3 separate regions of the Homo sapiens genome follow, and regions 2 and 3 are each linked to region 1. The links come from fine-mapping of genetic effects on plasma protein levels. A gene starts in region 1. Each other region holds a variant in brackets. All regions are shown on one strand. Distances are from middle to middle.

Region 1 (9,863 bases):
CAGCGGTGCATTCTCACCAGCACAGGAAGAAAGTTATGAACAAAGGACCAAGCAGAAACTCAAATTTAAAGACTACATATCCAAGCCTACTTCTAACCCAATGTGCAATGAAGAGAGAAATAAATAAAATCTTCAAATCCCTCATTCAAATCAATAGTTCAGCTTATTATTTGATTTGATTGTTACTGCCAAGTGGGAGGAAAAGGATAAGTTCTATAACTATGGTTTATTTTTCTGTTCTATTTTATTCTTCAAAAGGAATATGGCTGCAAACCAGGGTCATCAATTTGAAGATGGCATGGAAAGTAAGACACCCCCAAATCCACTTGCACGTGCAAAATGTGGCCCCTTACCTTATTCATAACCCTGGGAGAATGAAAACTGAGGACCTGAGATTCACTCCCGTGGCCTTAAATCATTCCAACTGCAGGGATCTAGAAACTGTCAAATTCAATTCGAAACAGCTAAATAAATGGAATTAGAGAGCAGAACGTTGTCAAGTTCATATGAGGAAGAACATTCTAGCAATAAGTACTCTTCATCCACTGAATGGTGAGAGTCCATCCATGGAAGCCTGTGAGCAGAGGCCGGGCAGCTCACTGTTAGAATCTCGCAATAAGCAAGAATCTGTGCTCAGTGTCCACTTAGGTCCTTAGAGTTCTAAAATTCTCGGATGGATGAGTGTTCACAATGAGGACCTCAGAAACTGTACAGTACCAAAATCCTACTGCAACCTAAGAAAAAGATTCTACGGTTCCATATCCTGACAGTGGTGGTGGTTCCATGAACCTGTACATGTGATAAAAACTACAGAGAACATGCCTACAAATGCATGTAAGAACTGGTCAAATCTGAGTAAGGCATGTAATCTAGTTAACAGTATCACTGTCAACCTCCTCATTTTGATACTGTATACAACAGTGACTCCCATCCCCCTGGGGATATTTGGCAATGTCTGGAGACATTTTTGGTTGTGACAACAGGGGGGAGGGTGCTACTGGCATCCAATTTGGAGTCCAGGGACACTGCTAAACATCCTGCAATACACAGGAAGGCAACCCCCTTCCTCCTCTGTTGGCACGTACACACAACACACACACACACATACACAAACAAACACACAATTGGCCCAAAACATCAATCCTGCCAAGATTGAAGTATCTTGTACTAGAATCATCTAAGAGGTTATCACTGGGGGGAGCTGACAAAGCGTACATGGGGCCTCAGTGTACTATTTTTGCAATTTCCTGTGAGTTTATAATTATTTCAAAATAAAAGCTTAAATAAATGTTTTTAAAGATTCCATTCTGTTTAATATATTGGGGCTCTACTTCTCTGGAAACCTGTTAGCCACTCATGGAAAATGCAATACTCTCAGTTAGCCAAAGGGTTCAGTTCTCCAAGCATCTCCATGAATGTCAGCATGTCACACCCATTGGGCATTTCTGTGGTGGTGCGAAAGAACAGCCAATGGTCAAAGCCAGAACCCACATCAAGATCAAATCCCCAATGCCCTTGGCTCCTTGCATAAACCCCGCTACAGGGTTAAAACAGGGCTCCCTCCTAGGGCCTACCACATAGAAAATCTGCCTGTGTGGGGAATCACTGCTGAATACATCTTTCCTTGCACTCACCTTTATGCAAAACAAGAGCTATCTGGGAAATATTTTATCATCTGCAAAGATAAAGTACATATAGACTTTTAATTAGTTATATATGCTTTTATACTGTTATGCATCTCTAAATTGAACCCCTCACTCCCACCTCAGTGCCTCATACATAGCATTGCATCATCCACCCAGTGAAGCAAAGTACAGAAGTTTGCATTAAACACTCCAGGCCACAGTCCAATGTTCCTTCCTATGTAAGTGCCTTCCTAAGATATTCCAAAACAATCCAATGCAGAGATAAGTGCTTCTATTACACCACGAGCAGCATATAGATCAAGCCGCTACTTAAAGTAGAAAAAAAATAATTTTCTCCTAGTGTAGTTTAACTGCACAAAACTGTCACTGATTCCCCTAACTAAGTTCACGCTTAAACCAGTCTTCCCACTTTGGTCCAGGGCAGAGGATTCTGCTGAGCAAACACCAAAATAAAAAAGGACAGGAGTTAAAAATATGAGATAAATGTCACACTTGTCTTGTCATGGTTGGGGAGAGCTCTAAAAAAGCCCCACAGAATTCATTAGAAACACAGCTGACATGGTAGCAGGTCTGCAGGCAGCTGTCCCAACAGGCCTCTGATGTGAGTCTCTAGATCTTCCGAAGACGTGTTTTCAGTATGGGGCTTGGAGATCCCGGTGGATGCCAGGGCTGCGGTGAACTGGGCAATGTGTCCTGCAGGAGCAGAGGCTAGGCACCGAATCAACAGGCTCCCCCATGGCCTGTCTCTACCTGCAAGATGGCCTTCCAAAACCAAATGAGCTTTTTCTTGCAAATTCAGGTTACACTCTGATTTCTCCTCCAGAGACCCCATTCCAAGAGTGGCAAGAGCTGTTTCTCCAAGGACTAAAGAGAGTCACTTCCCCATGTAACCCCTGAGTCTGCAGACACATTAGTCTGTGGACACTGCTCAGGCCAGGCTGTGACTTTCTGAGATGTGTTTTGTAGGGAAAGAAACCTATCTTAGGAATGATGTCCGGTCACTTGTACGAGTCCCCAGGACAATCAAGCTGACTTACTTGTCAAGTCTTAAACATCACCTCTTCGGGGAAGCATTACGCAAGCCCCCACAGATTCAGTGAGCTCCCCCAGCTTGTTTGTTACCTTAACACCCCACACTTTTGTGCAACCCTTAACACAACTGTGATTACTTTCTCAGAGTTCCCAGCTAGTTCCATGTGGTGGGGGGCGGGGGCTGGGGGGCAGGGAAGAGGAACGTCTTGCTCTCCCCATTCCTAGGATCTCACCCAGCACCAGTGCTTAGCAGGTTCTTGGTAACGGCCTGTGGAATGAATGAAAGGTTCACAGGAAGACCAGCACATAAGCGGGCAGGCACACTGGAAGCTTTCATTAAAAAGGTTTTTACAGCAATTGACAAAGTAAAGTGAGGTGGCAGGTGCAGTCTTCCTATTTGCAAACGATGATGAAGTTAAAGCTCAGGAAACTGAGCCATGATTCCAGATCCCCAAGTTGATGAGCCCTAAACATGGGTGTTAGGCCCAGTCTTCAGACTCCCAGTCTGGGGCTCTCTTCCACTTTCCCCCTTAGCACTACCCCCAGTGACTGCCAGAACCCAACATACATGTCTCCTGCCTACACCACCCTACCATGCCCAGGACGGAGCTAAGCACATTGCAGGCACTTAAAAAAAAACTAGAATGCATGTGGATTTGATTCAAACTACCAAACCAAAAAGGCCTTGAGTTAAAAAGGACAGAAGAAAGGCTTTCAAATATCCCAAGCCAGCAAGTGACGCTGAGCAAGTTACTTAAACTGTCTGAGCCTCACCCACCCTTCGGAGCCACTGAAAGGATGAAATGAAACTGGCACATAAAGTTTCTAATGGAGTCACAGTCGACATTCTACAAATATAAGTCTCTTCCCACTCCTAATCCTGTTATTAAGCCACTGTAGCTCTTAAACATCTGAATTCCCATAACTCTCCCTGAAACACTGGAAATTCTGGATGTGTTCAGGGTTGTCACACAACTCAGAAATCTCCGCCCATTCAAAGTTGTCCACAAATGGAAGCATGCCAGGGCCTCTGCAAAGGGGGGTGCTCATATAGGTCCACCCTTTCAGGAGTTCTGTGTCCTCACCCCTCCTCCACTTTCCCACTGCCCTGGCTGCTGACTTTCGTGAGCAGTTTAACCAAACAAAGACGATGCCTTCCATACCCGGAGCCCTGTAACGGTGGCACCCGCACGTATCTCCTTTCAGGAAAGGCCATTGCGAGGCCAGAGAATTTGGCCACATTCCTGCTCATGCCCCACTCTTGAAATACCAGGCCTGCAGCCCCTGCAATTTAAGCAAAGAACATTTGGAACTAGAGAAAGCCCCACTTCACAAGGTGGTTAATAAACTACGTCATTTAGTGGAAGTCATTTTCCTAAGAAAATGAGGTTGGCAGAAACTGAAGATGGATTTGAGAAGGGTATGAGACTTGGATGAAAGACGGAGCACTGCAGGCAGCCAGGGAGCCCCCAAGCCGGAGTCCAGGCTGCAGCAGACTCCAGGCACAGACTCCCCAGTGGAGGCTGTGCCATCCTGCCCCAGCCGGGCAGAGGACCCAAGAGACCCGCTGAGAGTGGGAAGGAGGGAGCTGAGAAGGGACACGACTGGGTAAAGGCCTACTGGCAGAGCTTTCCCTAGAAGGCCATCTGCCAAAACAGCCAGCCATCCACATCCCCAAAGCGGAAATTCAGCCGCATTTGAGGATTGAAGAAGTAGGCAGAGAAGTAAGAGGCATCCAGCAGAAAGACCCTTAGCTCAGGGGATTTCAAGCTTGAAACAAGAACTTTGACTCTCATAGGCAGCCTCCCAATTGCACAGCTCCCTCTTTACCTAAGGGCATAAGCCAGAGCTGAAATGCATGTCAGGGTCAAGGACAAGTTCTGGGAAGCTGGGCGGGCCGGCAGGAAGCGCAGATACAGTCCCTAGGGAGGCAGAGGCGGCAACAGGGAGATTCCCGGGACTGGCCCATCCCAGACACACACAATGGGAGAAGCCAGTTGTCCCCTGGAGGCGCGCAACCACCGGCGCCCCCTCGGGCTGCCCAGCGCAGAAAGTTCCTTACCTGGTGGAGGCGGCTCCGGAGCCGACTTCTCCCTCTTGGGAGCTTTCTTGGGCTTGGTGGCCCTCTTGGGCGGCCTGGGCTCCTGCGGGCGCCGCTCCCACTCCTCCCCGGGCCCCGCAGGCAGCGGCGGAGAGAAGGTCTCGAGCTCGGGCTCCGGGCGCGCGTAGTAGGGCTCCCGGCTCCAGATCTCCTGCCCGTAATAATCAGGGTCCTCGAGGGCTGCGCCCTGGGCTCCGACCCCGGCCAGGGTCACTGCCAGGAGCACCAGGGCCAGCGCTGGGGTAGCGGTCCCCGGGCGGGACATGCCTGCTCCGCCCCGCGCCCAGGGCAGGGTCACGGTCACCGGGGGCGCCGGGCGGGCTGCGGGCGCAGAAGCTGGCGCGGGGCAAGGGCGCAGGGCACAGCAGAGCGGCGCGCTTGGGCGCGGGAGGCGGCCGGCTGGCTGCGCGTGTGACCGGCCCGCGGGGCTGGGCTGGGCTGGGCCGGGGCGGACAGGGGCGCGCAGAGGCGCGGGGCGGGCGCAGGGGGGCCGGCCCCGCCCTTCCTTCTTCCCTCCCTTTCCCGGCGACCCCTCCGAGGCCGGTCCTTGGAGGCAGGTGTTCCAAGCAGCCAAGCCCAAGAAAGCCCCCTTCCCCTCCCCCGCAGGCCAGCCAGCGTGGGGCCTGCTTCCCCAGAGACGCTAATGAGTTTCAATCTTAGAAGAAAACACTGAGGCCCGCTGTTCCATTCCTGTTTTACAGGTGGAGAAACGTGACCTGAGAGAAGAAAAGATTGGCCCAGGGTCCTAAAGTAAATCAGAGCCCAAGCAGCCTCCAGCTCTCAAACCGTGCCCCGTGTGCTGACCATTCCGCAGACGTGGACTTCCCACTAGCCATGCTACTGTTTCAGGAACTGGGAATGAGGAATTCCTGAGGTTCCCGGGGTTTCTGGGAGTAAAGTTCCCTGGGAGCAGGGCCTAGGGACCCTGGAGGAGCCCTCTCCCATCTGAGACTGTGATTCTGTTGGGTCTTGGGAAAGACAGTGACGTTACCCCAAGGTGGCCATCCAGGGGTCACAAGAGGGTTTGTGGTTCATCCAAGAGCAGGCTCTTGCCCAGAGGGTCCTTTGAGAAAGGGCCTCCTGCTTTGGACAACTCTGCATGGGTTCTTTATGCGGAGCCCAGGCCCATGGCCCTGCGGCTTCTGCTCTCCAGGCGGGGATGTGGGGAACCAGGGACTGCATCGTTTCCCTTGCTGCTGTAACAAACGATGACAAACTTAGTGGCTTCAAACAACACCTATCTCACAGCTCTGCAGGTGAGAAGGCTGATGCGAGTGTCACCAGGCCAAAATCAAGGGGTCAGCAGGACTGGTTTCTTAGGGGAGCCTCTGGCGAAAAGTCCACTTCCGGGCTCACTCAGGTATTGGCTGAATTCAGCTCCTTGCGGTAGTAGGACTGACGTGCAGTTCACTCGCTGGCTGTGGGCTGAGGCGCCTTTCCTCCTGCTGGCTGCCTGTGTTCCTCCTCATGTCTTCTGCAGGCTCCTCCAGGCCTCTCCCTGGTCCTCGCACGTGGGCCCGGCATCTCAGAGCCAGAGCTGGCACAGCTTCAAATCGCTTCCCTTCCTGCCACATCTTTCCGCCTTCCAGCTAGAGAAAATTCTGTGCTTTTAAGAGAGTGTGAATAGATGGGCCCACCCAAAAAATTCAGTATAGTCATCCTATCTTGAGTGGTGACCTTAACCACATCGGCAAAGTCCATTTTGCCATGTTCCCTAACTTTTTGCCAGGTTCCGTAACTATCTCTTGTTCTAGGTATTCAGGTGTAGATGTCTTTGGGAACCCATGGAGTGCGCTACAGGGACAGACTGACCCTCAAGCCTGCATTGGCCTGTCACCTTCCCAGTTCCTCTGGGTCTGTGATGTGATCCTACGATGCCACTGAGCTGAGTCAGGGCACCAGGGCAAGGCCTCACCATTGCCCTGGAGTGAGGACTTCCCTAGAGTGGGGGCTCCTGAGACCCCACAGTGGGCAGGGCTTGGACCAGGAAGGTTGTCATTCTCTTTCTGCGCAGGCCACTCCACCAGGCCATCTTTTAGGGCCAGTCTTCCAGGCTTCCAGTTTGAAGGCCAAAGCAGAATGACCAGAGGGAGAGGAGGAGGCTGCTGGTTGAGGCAGGGCCTGTCTGCAGGGACCAGGAGGCCTTGGTCCTGCCTGTCAAACCCCCAGGACGCTCTGGAATCCAGAGCCAGCAGAAGTCCTCAGGGTGAGAGGGCAGGAGGGTCCCCTTCCCCACCCACCACTCTTTGCTCCCCAACCCTTCCTGGATCCCCACCCACCCTCCTCCATGGCCTATCCCCAGGGCTCACTCCTGGGGACTGTTTTATCTGAAGCCAGGCACTCCAGACGACAACACAGTCTTTAGTGGTGAAACAGAAAGCGGCTCCAGCAGCAAGCAACACACCCAGCGTTCCAGCGAGCTGTGTGAAGCGCTAACAAGAGGCTGGCCTGGCATCCTGGCCAGAGGGACTGCAGAGGCAGCCCAGGCCAGGACGGTGCCCTGCACCACCTCCATCAGAACCCCCAGAGCTTGCTCAACAGCAGACCGACACCCAGGCGGCACCCCAGACCTTCAGAATCTCCTAAAGAGTGGGTTCAAGTACTAGCATATCTAAGAAGTTCCTCAGGTAATTCTGATAGCATCCAAATTTAAGATGAATCTTCTCCCTCTCATTTTACACAGGATCCTGAGGCCCAGATTTACCTGAGGACACACAGCAAGCTAGTGATGGCCAGGACTAACCCTGCTCTGCTGCCTTTAACCAATATTTAAAGTCAGGCCATATACATCCCAATGGCCCCAAGCCCATGAGTCCTGAAGACACTTTACCGCTTTTCAGCACCTCTTAGGTGAGTAACATAACATATACCCGCTCTGCAGTGTCTGGTAAGTGTCCAGAGAAGGCCCTACCCAAACATGCCTCTCAACATGTCCCTGGAATAAAGAAATGAGTCCCACTTATTACTGCTCTCCCTATCAATGCTTGCTTGTTTGTTTTCCCTGGAGAGACACATAATTAAAGCAAGTAGGACAAATAGAACAAGAATCGATTGCACTGATGCCAGTTCTCCCAACACAGAAGCCCACGGCACTGTTCCTGGAGCCTCCTTTGTCTACCTCTGGCTCCCTCTCTCTGGTGCTGCCCGTCCTGGAAAGGTGCAAGGCACAGTCAGAGCTCATGAAGTTTAGGAAGATAGGGCGGCAAAGCTGACCTCATTCTCTTGGTTTGCAAGCCTTATTCTTTCTCCCAACTCTCACCTATCTGCCTGGGAGGGTCCTGCGTTCTTCAGCTTCTCAGATGAAGACCTCCCTGGTCATCTTGGCCCCATCTCTCCTTCACCTTCTAATACATAGCAGTAAGTCCTGCTGCTCTCATGGCACACATTCTTTAATCTGCCTCTTCCTCTGTTCCCACTGCCCATCACTCAGCCCATGGTTCAGAGACCCATGGCAGATGATGGGAATCCGTGCTCAGCAGGTCTCGCTGTTTGGGCCTCTCTGATCTGCCGTCCACTCTTCCTTCAAGGCAACAAGCCATTCATTCTCCCTAAACACCCGTTAACAACCTTGCTCCCCGACCGAAGAATCTGCAGGGCTAACCAATCCCAAGTAAACCTAACCCCTCTAGGTAAGGTTCAAGGCTCACCAGCTCACTCAAACTTGGCTCTTTCCACTTGCCACTGGGCAACAACCATAAGACAGATTCTTTTTTTTTTCTTTTTTTTCTTTTTTTTTTTTTTTTTTTTTTGACAGAGTCTCACTTTGTCACCCTGGCTTGAGTGCAGTGGCACCATGTCGGCTCACGGCAACCTCTGTCTCCTGGCTTCAAGCAGTTCTCCTGCCACAGCCTCCCAAGTAGCTGGGATTACAGGTGCCTACCACCACACCCAGCTAATTTTTATATTTTTCATACAGACAGGGTTTCACCATGTTGGTCAGGCTGGTCTCGAACTTCTGACCTCAGGTGATCCACCCGCCTTGGCCTCCCAAAGTGCTGGGATTACAGGCGTGAGCCACCATGCCCGGCCAAGACAGACTCTTAATGGCCTCCTGCACAGCACTGATAAGCTCTGTGATTATTATAATATGCTAACTTTGCATCTTCCACAGAAACCAACAGAATATAAGAAACACAGAAAATTTCAATAACTCCTTCTGCATAACTAATCTTGCCTAGAGTCTTTCACGGCATCAGCCAAAGAATGTTTCTCTCTAGGACTTTTTTGTTCTCAATCTAATAATTTGTCTGTTTAACTCAGGACTGGAACCCTCAGGAGGGGCTGTGAGTCTCTCCGCGTAGTGTAAGTAGAACTCCAGAAAGCACTGATTCTCCCTGGATGTCAGCCGTGCTATAAACCAGACACACCAGTCGGGGGTAGTAATGGGGGCAAACTGGGAAACCAAAGTGGCAGTTCAGAATCCCCCCCAGTTTCTGAGTTCTTCAAATGGTGTTCTTTAAAGTCAACCATTGTTTGCCTCAATTGAGAATCTGCTAAGTGCACTTCTGCTAAGCAAAATAAGCCCATGTTTGTCCATTCATTCATCCCTTAGACAGGATTCTGCTAAGCCAGTTTCTGTTATACAACATAAATCCATACTTGTCTGATAATCCTCAAACACCTTACACGGCTAATAATTTTTCAAATATTTATGAGCCCCACAAAGGAGATTTATGTTAAGCTGCTTGGCAAGGAACAATAGAGTGTGCAGGTCTAGAGAACATTCTGTTGAAACAAATATTGTCAAGACATCAATATTTTTATAGCATTTTTCATTACGGACTTTTCACACCTGCTCATTTCCCTAATTATCCCTGAGACTCTTACACTTTCAGAGAGAATGAAAATGGAATTTTTTGAAAGATCATTAATTTGAAAAATTAGCTGCTATATAAAGAAAAATACATACTCAGGCACAGCCATTACTAAAAATATAGTCTTGAGATGGATGCACAGGGAGAGAGATACTAAGTTGTTATGGCAACTATCATTATAATTACAAAGCTGGAGGGTTTTTCTCGTTCATTACTGTGTTGAGATGTGATAGTTTAAATGGCAGTGTCCTTTGTGATGTCCTCAATCTC
Region 2 (9,863 bases), 23 kb after region 1:
TCACCCAGGCTGCTCATGTTTGCTGGGCCGTTCAAAGCCTCCAGAATATTTCTCTTTCCATTGTACGGTACTAAATCTTTGTCAACACTTCTCCAAATGCAGAAGTTGACAGTCAGCCCTCAATGACTCAAATGGAAAGCTAGTAAAAGCTCCCAAAGGAACATCTTTCAACAAGTCATAATGCTTTCATAAAATGAAGGCAGGATAACTATAACCACTCTCCTCTTCCTGTCATGTTCTCTCAAAGCAGAGACAATGGAGGTGATTTGGGGCTTCCTCAGTGTCCAGGAACAGTATCAGTCATGTGTTCACCCATGAGGGCCATGGAGCAGTGCCCTCAACACAATCTCATGCCAACATTTAGTCCCTCCATGCTGATGCACGTGGAAACAAAGATGCCCTCGAGAGAGGTGGCCCAGCTTCCATATCCCAGGACTGCCAGGGTCACAGCCACCTACCTGTACTGGTGGGTGCAGCCAGGCAGCGCCCGAACCCACAGAGACAGTGTAGGGAGCAGGTGCAGCCACCATAGACAGGTGGGGCCACCACAGACCATAATGGCAGACAGAGGCTGGAATGTCCCTCACTGAACCCAGCCCCACCGAGCTGGCCCACCTGCACATTCGCGCCCCTGCACACCTGCCTCATCTCCCGACTCAGCCTTTGGTTGCTCACCCATGCCAGACAGGTGCCTTGCTTTGAATGCCTGGACACCTGGCCAGGTTTTTTTTACTCCTTCTCCCTCTGGAGTCTGGGAATCAGTTCTGTGCATTTGCGGCCCTGGAGGTAGGATTCTTTGTCAAATCAATGGCCAAGATCATGACCTCCACCCGGACAGAACCCTTTCATGTCCTGTCAGCATTCATCAAACCTAGTATCACTCCCCCACTGCAGAGATTCTCGGAACTGCACCCCCGGCCCCTGTTGCAGTTCCCAGGGGGAGTTCTCCTGATCCACTGCATCCCAGCTTTCTTCACTTCCCGTCAGCAAGGGCTACCTCAGCACCTCCTCATTGTGCCCTCCCAGATACAAGCCCCAGGCTGGTGCAGAATCATCAGTTACTAGACATTTGCATAAGTGAGTTAGGCATAACTGGTGTGAAATACAGGTATGAATGCAGGTGCTCACCCAACTGCACCTAAGTCTCTGCCTCATTATTGACTGTATCCGTTTTCTGGGGCTGCAGTAACAATGCACCACAGAACTGGGTGACAACACAAATTTATTCTCTCACGGTCCTGAAGGCCAGAATTCTGAGATCCAGGTGTCCACAGAGCCACACTCCCTCCACCAGCTCTCGGGGAGGATCCACTCTTGCCTCTTCCAGGTCTGGTGGCCCCAGGTGTTCCTTGGCTTGTGGCAGCATCACTGCAATCTCCACCTCTGCCTCCATGGGGCCATCGTGCTGCTATGTCTGGATCTCTGTGTGTCCACATGGCACTCCCCTCGTGTGTCTGTGTCTGTGTCCAAATTTCCCTCTTCTTATAAGGACAGCAGTCATCCTGGATTAAAGCCCATCCCAAGGACCTCATCTTATCTTGATTAAACCTGCAAAGACCCTATTTCCATATAAGGTCACATTCATAGATACTGGGAGTTAGGACTTCAACATATCTTTCTGTGGGGGACAAAATTCAACCCATACAGACCTTATGTTTCTCTTGATCTATCTAGTTTTGTGACTCTCTCATTTGGGAATTTGTTCAGCAAGTATTTATTGAGCACCTGTTACATTCCATGCACTATGCTGGGTATGAGGGACTCCTGCCCTCAAGAACTGATGGTCCAGGGGACAGGTCCCCCGGCAGCTGCTAGGAAGTGCAGTCTGAGGACACTCAGAGCAGGGCAGCCCCAAGGGGGCTCCTATCCCAGCCTTAGGGCATCGATGAAGTTTCTCAGAGGAAAGAGTGATGGAGATGAGAACTAGGCTGAATACGATTAGGTTGGTGCAAAAGTAATTGTGGGTTTTGCCATTAGTTTTAAAGGCAAAACCCACCATTACTTTCGCACCAACCTAATAGCCAGGTGAAGAGGCCATGAACGGAAACAGCTCCAAGAAACTCAGAGATGAGAGAAGCTGAGAGACTTCAGGAAACCTTGGATGATTCAGCAAGGTAGAAACAGAGGCATGGCAAGAGATGAAACTCCAGAAAGTCACATGGGTGCTCACATGTCACTGTGATGCCAAGGCACCCACAGAGCCTCTGTGGGCTCTGATTACAGGTGCCACCCATTGAACACACACTGTGAGCACCGTCTCCTGTAATCATTCCTGCCACCCTGCAGGGGTGGGGTGCTCTACATGTTACCAGTGGTGAATCTGCAGCAACCTCAATTCTTGCCTCCTCCGAAGAAAGAATTCGACTGAGGGGCATAAGGCAGAAGGAGAGACTGAGGCAAGCTTCAGAGCAGGAGTGAAAGTTTATTTGAAAAGCTTTAGAACAGAAAGGAGGGGGGAAGGAGGGGCAAACTTGGAAGAGGACCAAGCGGGTGACTTGCGGAACCACGTGCACAGCTAGACCTCTCGACTGGGGTTTTCTGCATTGGCATACTTCCAGGATCTTGCATTCCCTCTCCCCACTCCTGAGATCTTATTAGGAAGCTGCGGATCGGTTTCAGGTGTTTTCTCTTAGGAGCCTGCCTTTCCCTGGCAGCGCCTGTGACCAATTATTATTTTAGAGAAACAGTTGACAGCTGCCTGACCATCACATGATGGTCACCCAACACTCCTAGTGCGTGTGTGTGTGTGAGTGTGCAGATGGTGGGCGGGGGGGGGGGGGCAGGCATTCCTGCCCTGCTCATACCTAAGTAGCTACCCACTGTAACCCACTGAACAGGTGAGAAAAGTGAGGCCTGTTGCACTGGCATTTCTCTCCCCAGGTCACATGAGAGAGGCAGCAGAGGCTGCCCTCTGGGACTCAGCTCCACATCCTGGGCCACCCCTGCATCTGCAGACTGGTGCCCTCCCAGACATTGCACCGGTGTGGAAAAGAAGGGGAGGGGCTGGTGGCCAGGGCTTGTTTCCATCTGTGATGCCCTCCTGGGTATTCACCCCAAAGCCTGCTAATTTAGGAGGCACTGCCAGGGATTGGGAGCATGGAAGTGTGAACTGAAACACGCCCAGCCCTCTCCACTCCGGCTGGAGGAAGGCTCTGAAAGGCACTTAGCTTTTTTCATCCCGGGCTCTGATCAATCACCCACTTCCATCTTTGTGATTCTCACAACCTGTTAATTTATTTTATCAAACAACCTCAGTCCAGGCAACCATCCAGTTATTTTTGTCTCTGAAGCCACACAACAGGTTCAACTACTTTGTTGTTGTTTTCATTTGCCAACTAGGTATAGAGGGTCATGAAGGAACTGCCAGACCTTGTGGATTTACCTCTCTTTGTAGTCATACTCCAGACTCCTCCAAAGCTCATCCACACGGGTAGTTCTCTGCTGAAAGAGTGCTTAGCGATGGAAATGGATCCCCGGGCTCTACTCTGCAGAGATGAAGGGCTCTAAATCTGCATAGTAGCTCTTACTCTAGGAGGCTGCTGGGCTCTCTGCCTTGATTTGATTAATGAGTGTGGAGTTTGGCAGAGGCATTCTTGGAAGATTCTGGATTGGTTGTGTGTATATACATAAAATAAAAGATGTGCTGTGGGTATTTTGAGCTAAACATGACTGATAGCTATGTTTATTAAGATAGGAGCAGTCAAAGCCTGGCTGTTTGAAGTTATACACAGATATGCCGAAGAAGTGCAGCCTTATCCAAGTGCGGAGTCTCAGGATAAACTCAAAAGAGAATATGTATTCTCCAAGTAGCATTTGGTGAATAACAAGGCTAGAATATATGTCTCACCACTCTGTATTCTTTCCCTAATGATTGTTTAGGGGGCATTGGCTTGGCAAAAGAGCACTGGAATTATTGCATAAGTGTGTTTATGTGCGTAGGTGTGTATGTGCATACATCTGAATGAATATACGCATGTATTCCGCACCTTGTTCCCACAAAGGGAATTAAAGATGGCTAAGGAAGCTACGTAATAAAATTTAAATAAGTTTTAAATAAATAGATGAGGAAATCAGGGCAAGTGAGATAGAAAATTAGGAATAAAAATAGAGGAAAGAAAGTAGAGAGGAGGGCAAGTGGGTGTGAGGAGAGGAAGGAAAGACGAGGGGTGGGGAGCGAGAAAAAGAGAAGAGGAAGTGGTGAACAAAAGCTTCTGTTTCCATGGTGACCAGCAGCTCCAGGTCCGCAGAGATAAAGCTCTGAAAGAAAGATGGTGTGGACTGGCTGTTTAACCGGATCTGTGGCATACTTCCAAGCACCATCCCTCCTCAGGAGGCACCCCCCTCCCAGGCTCTGGAAGCTGGAAGCTGCCCACAGCCTATGCAATACATAATTCCCAGACCCTGAACCATGCCTGATGGACCAGAGTGAGCACCAGAGTCAGGCCATTGCCAACCGCATTCCCTCCCCTGGGGTTTCAGAATCCAACCT[T/G]AAAGGCAGGAAGTCAGTGTCATTTGGTGGCTTGACCTCTTTGGCATGGAGCATGCAATTTGGGAGGAGATCCAGCCTGCCCTGTGCCTGAGAAGCAGAGGAAATGAGCATGGCCAAGTTGAAGGTCAAAACAGCTCTTGCCAAGGTCATCCGGGAACTCTGTGAAGCTAACCATGAGTCTACTTCTTAATCTCTAAGCCACATCGAGCACATTAACCATGGCTTCCTTCCCGGACATTCTCCCATCTGGGATACCGGAATGCCCTGACCAGGCCTTCTCTGCCTCGTCTTCCTTCTCTGAGACTCAAGATGTACATGTTCTTTAGCGCTGGGTCTGGGCCCCTTTTCACTTCCAGCTTTCCCCCTTCTCTCTCTAGGGAAGCCTGTTCATTCTACCCATTGCTGTGGCTTTAAATTCTTGCAGAGAAGTCCCGTGTTCCAGGTCTGTGTGACTGACAGCCTCCTTGACATCTCCACTCAGATGCTGCCTCCAGGTCCCAAACTTCACTCGAAAGGTGAACTCCCCATTTTCCTTCCCAGATTCGTTTTCCTGGTCTCTGCCAACAACACCATTTTATACCTGGATGGTTACTTAAGCCAGAAGCCTGGCACCCGGGCCCTAAATGCTCAACCCCAGCATAGCATCCATCAGCCCATCTCGTAGATTCAGCTTCCAACGTATACCATGTATCTGTTTTCTTCCCTGATTCCCCAAGATTTCACTGCCCTCATTCAGGCCAGCACTATCTTCAACACGGATTTGCTTATCAGCCTCCTGACTAGTCTCCATGCTCTCTCTTTCTCCCTGACAACCTGGATTTGATTAACGGCCTCCTAACTAGTCCCCATATTCCCTCTTGCCTCCTGACAATTTGTTCTCCACGCAGCAGCCAGAGGGGCCAGCTCATAACAACAAATGGATCTGCTTCAAACCCTTTCATTGATTCTTCCCACCCAAAGAATAAAATGCAAAGTCCTTACCAAGAGGTTTGAGATTGGACCTGCTCTGGTCCCCTCCCCTCCCGCGGCTCCTCTGATGCCTTCCTCACTTCTCCCCCGCCTAGATCCTTTCAGTTTCTCAAATATTTCCTGCCTCAGGGCCTTGCACTCACTGTTCCTCTGCCTGAAGGTCCTCGCCCTGCCCTTCACACACTTGCTCCTGCCTCACACATCTGACTCTGCACATCATCCCTGCATGGCAGGGAGATCTCCTCCTATCTCTCCATCCAAAATAAGCCCCACGTAGGCCGGGTGCGGTGGCTCATAGCTGTAATCCCAGCCCTTTGGGAGGCTGAGGCGGGGAGATCACTTGAGGCCAGGAGTTCGAGACCAGACTGGCCAACATGGCGAAACCCTATCGCTACTAAAAATATGAAAATTAACCAGGCGTGATGGCAGGCGCCTGTAGTCCCAGCTATTTGGGAGGCTAAGGCAGGAGAATCACTTGAACCTGGGAGGTGGAGGTTGCAGTGAGTGGAGGTCGGGCCACTGCAGTACAGCCTGGGCAACAGAGCGAGATTGTCAAAAAAAATAAAAATAAAAATAAAAGCCCCACATATTATTCTCCATCTCAGCTATCTGCTGAGCCCTTCAGACAACTCATCATTTCTTCTTAGTTTGTTGCCTTGTATGATGTCAACTTTCTTCCTGGTCAATGGCTCCTTATGGACAGGTCTGTGATTGATCCACACTACATCCTCAGAGTTGGTCAATAGTGCGCATTCATGTATTATTTTGAAAGCTAAGCAGAGAGAAAACAATGACAGGGAACCGAGAAAGTGCTCTATGAACTTTCCAGTCCCTGGTCCTGGTTGCTCAGGAAGCTGTTGCCCACTCCAGCCCTGGAGTTCCGCCGAATACTCCTGACGTTGGCCAGCAAAGCCCTCTGCTGCCCTTGAGCAATTTTCTGCTCCTGAAACCAGCACCTAGCACCTGGCCATGACTCTCTGTGCCCTCTGGGAAAACAGTCACCAGCTTTGAAAGCTTGTGGATTCCAGGGCACTTGGCATAAGGCTGCTCTTTCTCAGGCTTGAAGTTTGGTGCTGTACTTTATGCTTTGGGAGAAAAAAAAAATACCTGTGCAAACCCAAATTACTACAGGAGTGGAAAGCATCTCAGCCACCAAATATTCCCAGCCCTAGGAGCATTATGTTGGTCATTGGTGAGCTTGTATTGCATCCCAGGGGATTAGGGGCAAAATGCTATTATATGTGGGATCAGAGGCAGCTGGATGAAGCGAGAGTAGGTGGTAGGATCCATGGAGTAGGGGCCAGGAGCCCTGGGATAGAGAAGCCACTCTGCGCTGATGAATGATACACTAGATAAGGCTCTGGATTGTTCTGGGCTTCTGTGTCCAGGTCTGCAAGACTGAGAAAACCAGAGCCATCAAGTCACTTAGCTAAGCACTCCCACCCCACCCCCATTCACTCTGTGCTCCTTTCCATGGAGCCCCATGGGAGTTCCTATTCACTGCCATTGACCAGTCGTCTCTGACTGCATTAAGCCCACTCCTTTGAGTGGTGACTGAAGTCCCTAACTGCTCAGCTTTCCATGCGTGCATCTGGCCTCCCTAACTCAGGCTCCTCCAGGGCAGGGACACTGTGTTCCTCTCTCTTCCTCAGCTCAGAACCTGGCAAACATCAGGCATCAAATTAATGTTTGTTGGTTTGATCTGGCTAAATGATCTGAAGAATCCTTTCATTCCTCTAGCTCAAGCCACCTTCTGCCATTTGATTCTCTCTCTCTCTCTTTTTTTTTTTTCTTTTGAAACAGAGTCTTGCTCTGTTGTCCAGGGTGGAGTGCAGTGGTGCAATCATAGCTCACCACAGCTTGGAACTCCTGAGTTCAAGCGATCCTCCTGCCTTGATAACCAGAGTAGCTAAGACTACAGGCACATGCCACCACGCCCAGCTCTGATCCTCATCTTGATTCCAGTTGTTTGCTGGAGGGGGTGAGTAGGGAGTGAGAATGACAGATAGGGAGATGGGGGGCAGAGGGGAAGCCAGGACAGGAAGGGAGGGGAGGGAAGGCCGGACCTAGTGTTTCTGAAATTGAGTGAGATTGGATGGAGGCATAGACATTCAGCTTGAGGCAAAAAGGGAGAGAGTAGGAGATGAAAATAGATCTATACAATCAGCAGATGCCAAAATATTCATAACGTTCCCAAATCTCCCTTAACATCTCTCTAGAGGCGCCCATAGAAAAGATCCTTTATTCCATTTCTAATTCAGGATCCGCTTTGATGTGCTCAGGCACAGGAAGGAAAGTTACAATGACTAACATCTTTAATGTCATTAAAAATAATTAAATTACATAGTCATTTCTTAACACCCAGCCTGACTTTTTTCAACACTTTCTTTCAAAATGAAACATTGCAAAGACATCAGGGAGTTGGAGAGAGCCTGCGGACAGAACCTTCCTTCCAACTGCTGCTCTTGATAGAAGATTATAATGGGCTTCAGAATTCATTTGACGTTTTTCTTGCTATTTTGTACACATAATAATAGATGTAAAGCCTCAGATTTTAATGGCACCTTTCTACCTAACAACCACATGTGCTCTCACAAACATTCACTTTTTGTATGTTGAAGAGGAGAGAAGTATTACTAGCCCCATTTTACAGAAGTAGCAAGTTGATGATTCATAGTGCATAAGCACTAATATTCCCTGAATGCCTGCCATACTCTAGGCACTGAGCTTTCGTACAGTCTCATTTATACCTCTCAGCCAGCTTTTCAGGACTGAGAAAGGATTCAAACCTGGACCACCTGACTAAAAACCCACATGCCTCAACACTGTGCTATATAACTTATTCAACAAATCTTTATTGAACAGCTACTCTGTGCCAGACATTGTCCTGGCTGCTGGGGATACAGTGGTACAGGAGACAGATCTCTCTATTGTCAGGGATGATGTTATAATAGGAACACATAAAGAAATTAAAACAGGGTGATGTGTTCAAGACTGTAGGGCAGGTGTGAGAGAGAGTCCATGCCTCCTGAGGAGTTAATGACAAGAAGGACCCATTCACAAGAAAATATGGGCAGCGCATTCCAATCAGAAGGAAGCCCAGGGATCTAAATATGTTGGTATTTATTATTTCCTCAGCCATTTCACCTGAATATCTGTTGTAAGACAATAATTATTAATATGGAAACAAATATTCACTGGTTATTTATAATAATGAAAACAAATAGAAATGACCTAAAATCGAATAGGGAGAAATTTCAAGAAATTATGACCCTTGTGCTTGCTGAAATATTATGCAGCCATGAAAAATAACTTGGCAGGTTTCGATTCTGGCTAGGAGGTATACCTTACTCTCTATCTCTTCTACTGGTTACAACTAAAAACTCAGGACAGACTATATAAAATAACTATCAGAGTACTGTGAAAAATAATAACAGAGTAGGGAAAGAAATAAAAACTCGAAGAAATACAGATCCAGCAGAGTGTCCTGGAGTGCTCCCACCTCATATTTCCTGGCTTAGACACTAGAACAGCTAAATCCTGAACTGTGTGGCAGATGTTATGTGCACAGAATAAGTTCCAAGAGAAATCCTCCCTTTCTGGCCAGAAAATCAGAAGGGCAGCTCTTGCAGTGCACAGCTTGGGGCTAAATCCGCATTTTGTTTTCCTTTTCCCTTCTTTTAGTCTTCCAGCCCTGTCCCAAGGCAATCCCCAGTCATGATGCTGTGATCCCCTTCAGCAGCAGTGGTCATGGAAGCCATACAAGCATGTAAAATTCTGAGAAAATTATTTCCTCTGACTAGAGGAAGCTGGAAAAGGGGTCCCTGTGGTCCAAAGAGTGAGGTGGGAAGGACGTCTGTTATCTCCTCTTTCTTTTTTTCCTAGCTATTTTGTCCTAAAGTGGACCCAGTCACAGAGAGTGCATGAAAACACAGGGAAGGTAAAAACCCCAGCTGGAGCACCAGGAAAGGGGGCCACTGGGAGCTGGAGATTGTGGAAGAAATTTGGAAGAGGAGGCAGCTGAAGAAAGAGAGCCCCTAAATCTGTTTGAAGCCCACAGCTCCTCTCTGAGCTGTGCACGTATGGAACTGACATAAAGTAGCATAGACAAGGCTTTGAGAATTTAACTGCTGTACATCCACTGCTCAGGACCCAGACTGGACCCTGGGTGGTCCCCACACAGGACATATCCAAATAGCACCACAGAGCCTTTGAAAATCAAACTGACATTGAAACTCCGGCCCACAAAAGATGCACAGGGACTTGTGGTCCATTCCTAACCAGCTTGATTACCTGCTAAAATGAAATAATCAACATTTATCAGAAGATTTTAACAGTGCCCATAGCATGATAACATAATATTCAAAAATATCCAGGATACAATCTAAATTTACTCAACATACTA
Region 3 (9,863 bases), 52 kb after region 1:
GGGAACAATTTTCCCAATAGTCTCCCAGGAGATGTCTTCATAGCTCATTGGCCTGCACTCTGTCATGTGACCTCCTGGAGCTGCAAGGGAGCCTGGGACACTGTGCACCTGGCCAAGGGGAACAGGGTCACTGTGACAGATGCCGTTAGCAAGCAAGAATGGTGAATGCCCGCTGGCTGCCCGGCTGGCCAGCGTCTACCGCAGCCATCTTGCAGATACTCAGGGCCACCCGTATACGCTCTGGTCTATGGTGAGCCAGTAGAAAGAGAGAGGGGTCATGCCAGGCTTTCAATGTAGAGTCGGTGATGGCAGTGGGAGGCAACACTTATCTGGAAATGCAGGTGGGACCCAGCCCAGGTGACTTTCACTGGGGGACATAGGTGACCCAGGGACACAGGTGGATCACAGCCCAGGTACTTCCATAGCCCACCCAGAGCTCCCACCCTGCCAAGCCCTCTGATCAGACAAACTAGAGCCGATACAAATGACACAGCCAGACTCACCCCTCTCCCTCCTCTGGAGGAGCAGACACATTATGTTCCTGGTATCCTGGATACCATGTCAGGGACATAAAGCCACGAGAAGTGTATCTGCAGAGCCAACTGTGAGCAGTGCCAATTAAACTTGTCCCTCAGACCCACAGAGCCGTAGTATTGGGAACCAAGGTATCATCTTTTCCAGAAGCAGTACTGCCCCTTGGTAGCAGGGTTACCATGGCAATGTTTTCTACCTGGGCCTGCTTCGGGTAAGGCTGGAAATAGGACTCACATATTTAAAGTAAACTAGAAAAGCGGCACCAAGCGGGGCCCAGCAGGTGGAAGGCAGGCAGGTTCAGGAAGTCCCCTCTTGCCATCCTGGTGGGTTTTGGCTTCTCGGTCATGCTGGTGGCTCTAAGCGAGGGGATGTGGAAAGAGGCCAGCTCTGGAGTTAGATGGGGCTGGATTCCCATCCTGTCTCTGTTACTGACCTGCTGCGTGGCCTTGGGCAAGTTGTTGAACTGCCTCAGCCTCAGTTTCTTCATCCTTAAAATAGGAGGAGAGAAAGGCACACGCCCTAATATACAGGGTCATTGGGATGATTGTAATGTCATGAGACTCTGCGTCTAAAGGGCTCAGCGGGGTGTCTGGTGCAGAAGTCAGTAGAGCACCAGCCCTGGGGATGGCATGGGGAGGCCGGGCCTAAGGAGAGGCTGTCTGGATGTGACTTTATCAGGCCAGACAGGTAGACGCATGCTAAGTGGGAGCACAGAGGCCCAAGGCATCAGTCTGCCATGAGAATCCCTGTCCCAGAGCCTGGGCGCACCCCAGATGTGCCTGATCAGGGCTCTCTGACAGCCAGGCCCAAGTGCAGGAACCCCATGGCTGGCTCTCCAGGAGAAGGCCCACGAGACCACATTGCTGAAGAGCTAGCACGTACTTCCTGTCCACACAGGCAGAGCTGGGTAGGGGCATCTGCAGGACTTGAAGTCATGGAATTAGAGCAAGGAGACTTAGAAGAAGAGAATACCTAACGGCCCCACCCCACCATCGACATCCCTCAGTCCCAGAACCACAGTCATCGACACATCCTGGCTGTAAAGCTCCCTGAGCTCGAAGCAGCAGGACCACAACCCCTCCCCTGCTGCCTGCACCCAGCTCACCCTGGGAGGCCTCAGTCCTGCCATCAGGGCAGGGAGGAGGCAAGGTCTGCAGCCTGATGCTTCTTCTTCCCTGAAAGCTGCTGCCTGCATTCACCTCCATGCCTCTTCTTTACCTACCCATGGGTGATGAGCCCTTGCTGTGATGTACACAGGACATCTGTGTCATTGTGATGATGTACATGGGACATCTGTGTCCTTGTCATTTGCACAGGACATCTCTGTCATTGTGATGATGGGCACAGGACTCTGTGTCCTTGTGATGATGTGCACGGGACATCTGTGCCCTTGTCCCAGATCCACCCCAGAACCCACCTGGCAAGGGAGCGCCCAAGCCTGGGAATCACTCATCACTACCCAACAACTTTGCCCATCTCTGATCTACACTCTGTGTGTGGGCCTTGGCTCCGGCTCTCAGTGAGCAGGCTTATTTCCCTCATTTCCAAGTTCTTGGGGGACGCCTCAACACCCACCTAACAAGCATCCATAGATGGCAACAGCCTTTCTCTTTCGACTTCCAGCATTTTAAACCAACGCTGAGTTGTTGGAGTGGGTGGAAAACAGCACTTGCCTTTCTGGGACCATGGATTAGCTCAAGATTCCCACACCGGTGGGGCCCTCAAAGCCACAGGACAAGCCTGGTGCTTCTTCCTGGAGCATCTGTGTCTCCATGGTGAGGGTACTCATTGCCTAGTGCTGCCGTCCAAAAGTGCCACAAACAGGTGGCTTAAAACAATGGAAATGGGCCGGACACGGTGGCTCACGCCTGTAATCCCAGCACTTTGGGAGGCTGAGGTGGGCGGATCACGAGGTCAGGAGATCGAGACCATCCTGGCTAACACAGTGAAAGCCCGTCTCTACTAAAAATACAAAAGATTAGCAGGGCGTGCTGGTGGGTGCCTGTAGTCCCAGCTACTCGGGAGGCTGAGGCAGGAGAATGGCATGAACCTGGGAGGCGGAGCTTGCAGTGAGCCGAGATCGCGCCACTGCACTCCAGCCTGGGTGACAGAGCGAGACTTCATCTCAAAACAAAAAAATAAATAAATTAAAAATAAAATAAAATGGAAATGTATTGTCTCATAGTTCTGGGGCCTAGGAATCTAAGATCAAGGTGTGGCTAGGGCCGTGTTCCCTTTGAAGGCCCTAGGGAAGCATCCTTCTTTGCTTCTTCCTAGCCTCTGCTGGTTGCCAGCTTCCCTGGTGTTTCTCGGCTTACAGCTGCAGCAGGTCAATCTCTGCCTCTGTTGTCACGTGGCCTCCGCCTCCTGTGTCTGTCTCTGTATCTTCTCTTATTATAAGGACACCATCATATTGGATTAAAAGCCCCCCACCACCACTCCTGTATGACTTTGTCTAAATTTAACTAATTACATCTGTTGTAACCTTATTTCATAAAAGGTCACATTCAGAGGTCCTAGAGGTTAGGATCGCAACATACATTTTTGGAGGACACAATCTGACCCATAACAGTGAATAATGTTAAAACATTGTTTTTATGTTTAACCAGTGTGGATATTCACGAGGTAGAACGTAAGACCCTCCCACCTGCAGCGGACGGCTGCCCTGTGGACCCCAGAGGACTTTCCCCCTCCTCTGCCTTTGGGGGTGCTTTGAAGAAGAGCTCAAAAGCTAGAGTATGAGGCCAGAAGAACTGGTTCTCTCGTTCACCTTGAGCAGGCCACCTACCTTCTCTGAACCGCATCTGAGATGCGGATGAAGCAGTGGAAACAGGCAAACCCAGAATCTGTAGGCACAATGGCTTGCACATGCAAGTGTGCTTAGATCCCTATGGGCATGCCAGGAGAAATTGTGAAAGAGCTTAAAATAGGTTAAAAAGATTGCTGGGTGTCCTATCTATGCACCCCTCCAGGGTTATCTGAATCTCTAAGGGCCTGCACCTTTCATTGTCTTTGAGGAATTGGACAATTTTGTAAGTTGCAGAAAACTTAGAGTAATGCAAATGGCTCTAGTCCACAGAAGTGCAGATGGATTTTGTCTGGTAGAATGCAACTGCTATTGCTCTGTGGGTTTCGACCAGCTTTGGATCTATAGTCATGCACGGCATAAAAACATTTCAGTCAAGGATGTGTCAGAGGCATCTGAACCACAGTGACTCCATCTTGAACAGGGACTGGGTAAACCGAGGGTAAAATGACCTGCTGGGCTGCATTCCCAGGAGGTTAGGCATTCTTAACCTACGATGTCACAGGATGAGATAGGAGGTCAGCACAAGATACAGGTCACAAAGACCCCGCTAATGAAAACAGGATGTGGTAAAGAAGCCAACGAAAATCAAGATAGCAACAGAAATGACCTCTGGTCATCCTCACTGCTCATTATATGCTAATTATAATGCATTCGCATGCTAAAAGACACTCCCACCAGCACCACGACAGTTTACAAATGCCATTGCCACATCTGGAAGTTACCCTAGATTACCTAAAAGTGGGAGGAACCCTCAGTTCCAGAAAATCCCCACCGCTTTCCAAGAAAACTTGTGAATAATCCACCCCTTGTTTAACATATGATCAAGAAATAATTGTAAAAATAGCCAGCCAGCAGCCCTCAGGAGGGCTCTCACTATGGAGTAGCCATCTTTTTGTTTCCTTACTTCTCTATAAAGTTGCTTTCACTTTACCCTACGGACTAGTCCCAAATTTTCTTGTGTGAGATCCAAGAACCCTCTCTTGGGGTCTGGATGGGAACCCCTGACGGACCACATATATGATGATGGTCCCATAAGATTATAATACCATATTTTTACCTTACCCTTTCTATATTTAGATATGTTTAGTTACACAAATACTTACTATTGTGTCA[C/A]AATTGCCTGCACTGTTCAGTACAGTCACATGTTGTACAGCTGTGTAACCTAGGAGCAATCGACTCTACCATATGGCCATACCAGTAGACTATACCATCCAGGTTTTAGTAAGCGAACTCTGATGTTCACACTATGACAAAATTGCCTAACAATGCATTTCTCAAAACATATCCCATAGTTAAGCAACGTATGACTGTATTTCTAAATTCATGTGTGTTCTTTGAATGTTCCTTTGAACTGGTCGTACCATACTATTGCTTTCCTCACTAAATAGTAAGTTAAGTAAACTTGATGTGTTCATTGTATATTTTATGACAATCATGACTGTGCCTTTTAAAAATTATCCTTTTAACAAGGACAACAGGGCAAAGCATTTGGATGTACAAGTTTGTGGGAAGTTGCAAAATGTATGGACACAAACATCAACAGCAACAGCAACAATAAAATCAGAATTCAATGCCTCAGGGGAGCCTCTGGTGCCTCAAACAAAACCCAGAAGGGATTTGCCAGCCGTGCAGGGTTTGGGTGAGCAGCACGAGGTAGATCCTCCAGGGACCAGCAGGCTGCAGAGAGGCCAAAAGTCCCCTTGGGCCCCACAGGGAGTTGCATTTCAGCCCCTGAAGTGCAGAGCAATGAGGTTAGGTCTGAAAAATAACAAACGAGGTCCTAAAAGCATCACTGCTACCTGTAGAGCTGAGCCAGGTATGTGCCAACTGGCTGGAGCCTGTTGCTGAGATGTTGCTGACAGCCTGGTAGGCAGAAGCTCAGGGCCCAGGCTACGGTGGGGCTGTCTGGCGCAATGAAGCCACCTGCAAAGACAAACACAGTCCGTCTTGGGCCTAGAGGGACACCACTGTCCTGGTCCTCTTCCCAGATGGAGCAGACAACCCCTGCTGCCCCATGGAATAGAAGGGGGATCTGTGTAGTGGGTAGCTCTGAGAAGGTATTTGTATCTCCAGAGCTGAGGCTAAACAGGTCCTTTGTGGCATCCTAATTAAAGAGACCATCGTCATCGTGGTCACCTGCTTCTGCTTCCAGCCAGGATCATCCTGCAAAGCTCCACAGCTTGGGATAGGATGTCCTACAAGGTTAAAGTGTCCATGATGTTTGCAAAGGCCCCGGGCTGGGGTGTGAGGCTGAGCTGGGTTTGAGTCCCAACTCTCCCTTTTGCCTGCTGTGTGACCTCACAAGGGGTGTTTAACTCACCTGATGAGCTGTGGGATTACCTGAGAATATAGGAAACGTGGAAAAAGCATCTGATATAGAGCAGATTCATCCTAAATATCAGTACCCCCATTCCTTCTTGTAGAGCAGGAAACAGGTCTTCTGTAGGCTCTACAAAGCACCAGATAAGATTTGGCCAATCTCTACAAGTCAAAAGTTCTACTTCCGGCTCAACACAAATTCACTTCTTCTCTGTGGGTCTTTAAAACAAAGGGTTCTGAACCTGGTATGAAATTCTAGCATTCAATCTTGCCATTTTCAGAACCTGGGAAAACTGACTTGCTTTTCTAAGAAATGCCTGCAAAGTTCCAGCAGAACGCTGGTCCCACTCTCTTTCCCTCTTGACTCTCCCTAGACAGATGCGTTACCATTGAGATGAGAATTTCTGGACGGTGCAAAGCAAATCTGAGGGTGGCTCCTCAGAGTTCTGTGTGGAATTTTCTATAACCTCCACTGCCCTCTGGACAACAGACAGCATCCCAACCACACTGCCAGCATTCTGCTTCCAAACAGGAGAAGCAACAGCACCTCTTCCCTTCATAAAGATGGCTGGCTCTTCTCAGGCATCCTAAAGCCGGAGTGTGGGCTCCACAGGGCGGGTGCTGGGCCTCAGCTGTCCAGAGAAGTCAGCCTCAGGTCAACGTGGGCTGCTTGGCCTGTTATTCCAAATGATGGAATTCTCTGGCCTTGAAAGCTCATCTCCTCCTTTCCACCAAATGATTAAAATGCTAAGTGAAAAACATTGCTGAGACTCAAAGGGAGCCGGGGCACAGCGTGTCCTTAAATAACTCCTCAGGCCGCAAGTCTAATCACTCTTTGTCCTGAACTTCTGGTAGCAGCATCAACTTCTCAAAGGGCCCAGGAGTGCAGTTTTTTTTTCCCCTACAAAGACCATACTTTTTCTGGGGGTCATTTCCCCCTTTGACAACTATTCCAAGAATGCAAAAAGAAGGAATATTTTCTTCCTAAAAATTATACTTCCAGACTTTGAGCTGTGACGATGCTCATGAAGAGTCAATAATATGCTGCTGCCGTGGAAATCACAAGCACAAAGGAGATGTCTTTAGCCAGCCCCAGAGGGTCCCTCTCAAGGGCTGTTCCAGGTGCATTTTAAATCATGCCAGCAATTGTAACCCACGCACCAGCAGGGTCTCCCTGCCTCCAAGGACCTGGCTAAGCTCTACATTGACCCTTCTTCTGTGGTCTCAACAAGCCCACGGTTACATTCATGTCCTCAAGGCTACCTCTGACCTTCAATTTAGCGTTTATTCTCCCGCCTACCTTCTCACACACACACGCCCTGCTGCCCATCCAGCCAAGTCAGACCTGGACTATGCAGTTTCTGCAAACACACACACACACACACACACACACACCACTCATGCGTGTCATTTGTGTATTTATAGCTTTTTATGGAGTAATTGGAGACAGGGAGGAATTGTCAGGATATACCACTGTCTGTTCACAAAAGCCTTACTTCCTTTGGGTACAGAGACTACATTTCCCAGCTTCCCTTGCAATTAGGTTTGGCCACGTGACTTGCATTCTAGCTAATGGAAGCAGGGCAGAAGTGAAGTGTCATGGTCTGTTCATATAATGGAATACACTTCAACAATAAATAGAAACAAACTACTGTCTCTCTCTCTGAGTGAACCTTAAAAACATGAGGCTGAGTGAAAGAAACAAGACACACGAGACCACAGATTGTATGACTCACTTTCAATGAAATGTCCAGAAGAGGAAAATCCACAGAGACAGAAGGTAAAGTAGCAGTTCCCTGGGGATAGGAACAGAGATGACAGGAAATGGGCATGAGGGATCTTACTGGGGATGAAAGTGCTCTAAAACTGTTTTATGGTGATGGTTACAACACTTGGTAAAGTTACCGAAATCAGTGAACTGATATCTGAAATGGATAAACTTCATGATACGTAAAATGTACCTCAATAAAGTTGTTTTAAAAAAAGGAGTGAGAGAGCTATTCCCAGCCCCAATCTGGAGAAACCTTTGGCATGTTCTCTAGGCCCTTTCCTTCATGTTAACCAGACCATGATGGAGACCAGGAGGAGGGACCCTGGGTCCCAAGGGACTACATGGAGGTGAGTCAACCCCAGGCCTGTCCTGCAAGCACGAGGTGCGCGGCCTCGTGTTGAGCCAGTACTCGTTTGAATTTGGTTTTTTTTTTTTTTTTTTTTTTTTTTTTTTGAGACGGAGTCTCGCTATGTCGCCCAGGCCGGACTGCGGACTGCAGTGGCGCAATCTCGGCTGACTGCAAGCTCCGCTTCCCGGGTTCACGCCATTCTCCTGCCTCAGCCTCCCGAGTAGCTGGGACTACAGGCGCCCGCCACTGCGCCCGGCTAATTTTTTGTATTTTTAGTAGAGACGGGGTTTCACCTTGTTAGCCAGGATGGTCTCGATCTCCTGACCTCATGATCCACCCGCCTCGGCCTCCCAAAGTGCTGGGATTACAGGCGTGAGCCACCGCGCCCGGCCTGAATTTTGTTGTTAAAGCAGCTAGCTTCCACCTCCCAGGTGGCTCCCTGGCAACCACACATATTTCAGTGTGAATGGCATTGTGGTTCTTTGGCCACACCAGCCTTGGAATTGTCTTTCTTGGCTACCAGCTTTTTCATCTTCCCCACCTCTCACTGGGTCTTCTCTTCCTCTCCACTCTTTCTCCCTCTGCCACATCCCTGCCTCTTGAATTGTGCCCAGGGATTCCAGATCCTTCTCTCTTATGCAAAGCATAGCTGTCAATAGATGACCAAGTATAAGGGCTTGTTTTCAGAGTAGTCTTGGGAGAGAGGGAAGAGGGGAGGTATTTGCCTTTGTGAGGGGTTGAGGGTGGGGGCTGAGCTTAGAACTGGGAGACTAAGCTTAGGTGGGAAGCTTACGGGACCAGGCTCTAGCAGATTCTGCTGTGGGTGCTTGGGCAGTGCTGAGACCATTTAGCCCCCTGCAACAACTGGGGAAGGGAGGAGGGCAGGCAGACGTGGACCTGGGCACGCCAGGGACACAGACCTTTCGCCATCTCCAGCACTCAGGTTTTTCTGCTTCTCCAGAACTGAATTGGCACGTGGGTGGTCAGAGTCAAGAACATCTCTTTGAGTCGTAACAGAGAAAAGGTATTGAGTATTAGCAGGGGAGAGTTACTGAAACAAAGAAATGCCTTAAAGTATTCATATTCTCAGTGACAAGCAACATAATTCAGCAGGCATCATTGAAACTGTCGGGGAGAAAACTCCTGGCAAGTTTCTATGGCATAAGCATCAACAATGGCAGCTGATTTTACAAGTCCCGTTGTTACTCACCGAAGATGTTTACAGTGGATTGGACATTTTCTTCATTCCTTGTGCTGTCACTCTCAAGCTCCTACAGAAGCCACTGCGGGCCCCACACAGCATGCGCCCCTCCATTCTCCCCAGCACTGCCTGAAAGCAGCCCTGACAAGCCTCACCTGCATTCACAAGGCTTCCTCCCAACTGCTTTCCTGCCTCCGCCTTTTCTTCCTCTAACACATGCTCCACAGCCACTGTGATCTTTTAAACTCACATTTATAGCCATGTCAATCTTCTGCTTCAAACCCTCTGAAGGCTGCCCATTCCCCTCAAGATAAAGCTCATCTCCCTTAGTGGGGCAGGGTCACCCTGCTCAGTTATTTGAGTTGTGCACTGCACAAGTGTAGGGGTGCTCTGAGACACATCTGTACTCCACGCCCATGAAAGTAACACAGAGAGAGACCTTCGAGGCCTTCAGGTCCCCAAATCTCTCTGGCCTAACGTGTCACCGTCTTTGACAGACGCTTTCTATCCAGCCACTTAGAATTCCCAGTCCATGCGGCTCGGTCCCTTCTGCTTGGAACTCCTCCCCACTCCCTTCTTCCTCCAGGTGTTTCCCATTCACCCTTCTTCCTCCAGGTGTTTCCCATTCATCCTTCACAGCTCAGTTCAGCATCACGTCCTCCAGGAGGCTGCCCCATCCCCTTGCCAATTCTCTCTGCTCCTCCTACACCCACCAGGTGGCTGTGGTTTCTCTAATACCCACATCAAAGCACAGGTCACTCTGTGCTCTGCCTACACCATGAGTTCCCGGAGGATGACTACGTCTCGGGAGATGGGAGGTGAGATTTGGACTGTCCCTCATAGAGCAGGTGGGCCCAGAAGCAGAGGCACAGATGGCTAC

Alleles and levels. Alleles are on the strand shown, and positions count from the first base shown. The strength of an association depends on the size of the effect and on how common the allele is.
As copies of T replace G in region 2, the plasma level of the protein whose gene starts at base 5,192 in region 1 goes up (moderate association).
In carriers of allele A in region 3, the plasma level of the protein whose gene starts at base 5,192 in region 1 tends to be lower than with C alone (moderate association).

Evidence for each region. A credible set is the group of variants that fine-mapping cannot tell apart. PIP is the chance, under the fine-mapping model, that this variant and not a neighbour inherited with it causes the effect. Protein levels are from antibody-based Olink assays in UK Biobank. Linkage for the fine-mapping came from a reference panel and not from the study's own genotypes, which makes the PIPs less certain.
Region 2: its variant is the best candidate, but not a certain one, in a credible set for the plasma level of the CPXM2 protein (UK Biobank, PIP 0.81).
Region 3: its variant is the best candidate, but not a certain one, in a credible set for the plasma level of the CPXM2 protein (UK Biobank, PIP 0.56).

The regions. Positions count from the first base shown.
Region 1 is chr10:123,886,616-123,896,478 of GRCh38, forward strand. It overlaps CPXM2 (carboxypeptidase X, M14 family member 2), which reads right to left and starts at 5,192. Exons shown (of 14, transcript NM_198148.3): 1 at 4,741-5,192. The coding sequence starts at 5,044. It overlaps LOC105378534 (a long non-coding RNA gene), which reads left to right and starts at 7,089. Exons shown (of 3, transcript XR_001747622.2): 1 at 7,089-7,368; 2 at 7,463-7,629.
Region 2 is chr10:123,909,542-123,919,404 of GRCh38, forward strand. It overlaps a transcript of CPXM2 not described here. Among named protein-coding and RNA genes, the nearest start is that of CPXM2, 23 kb to the left of the region's middle. The variant T/G (reference allele first, on the strand shown) is at 4,490.
Region 3 is chr10:123,938,510-123,948,372 of GRCh38, forward strand. It overlaps a transcript of CPXM2 not described here. Among named protein-coding and RNA genes, the nearest start is that of CPXM2, 52 kb to the left of the region's middle. RefSeq lists an enhancer at 366-535. The variant C/A (reference allele first, on the strand shown) is at 4,457.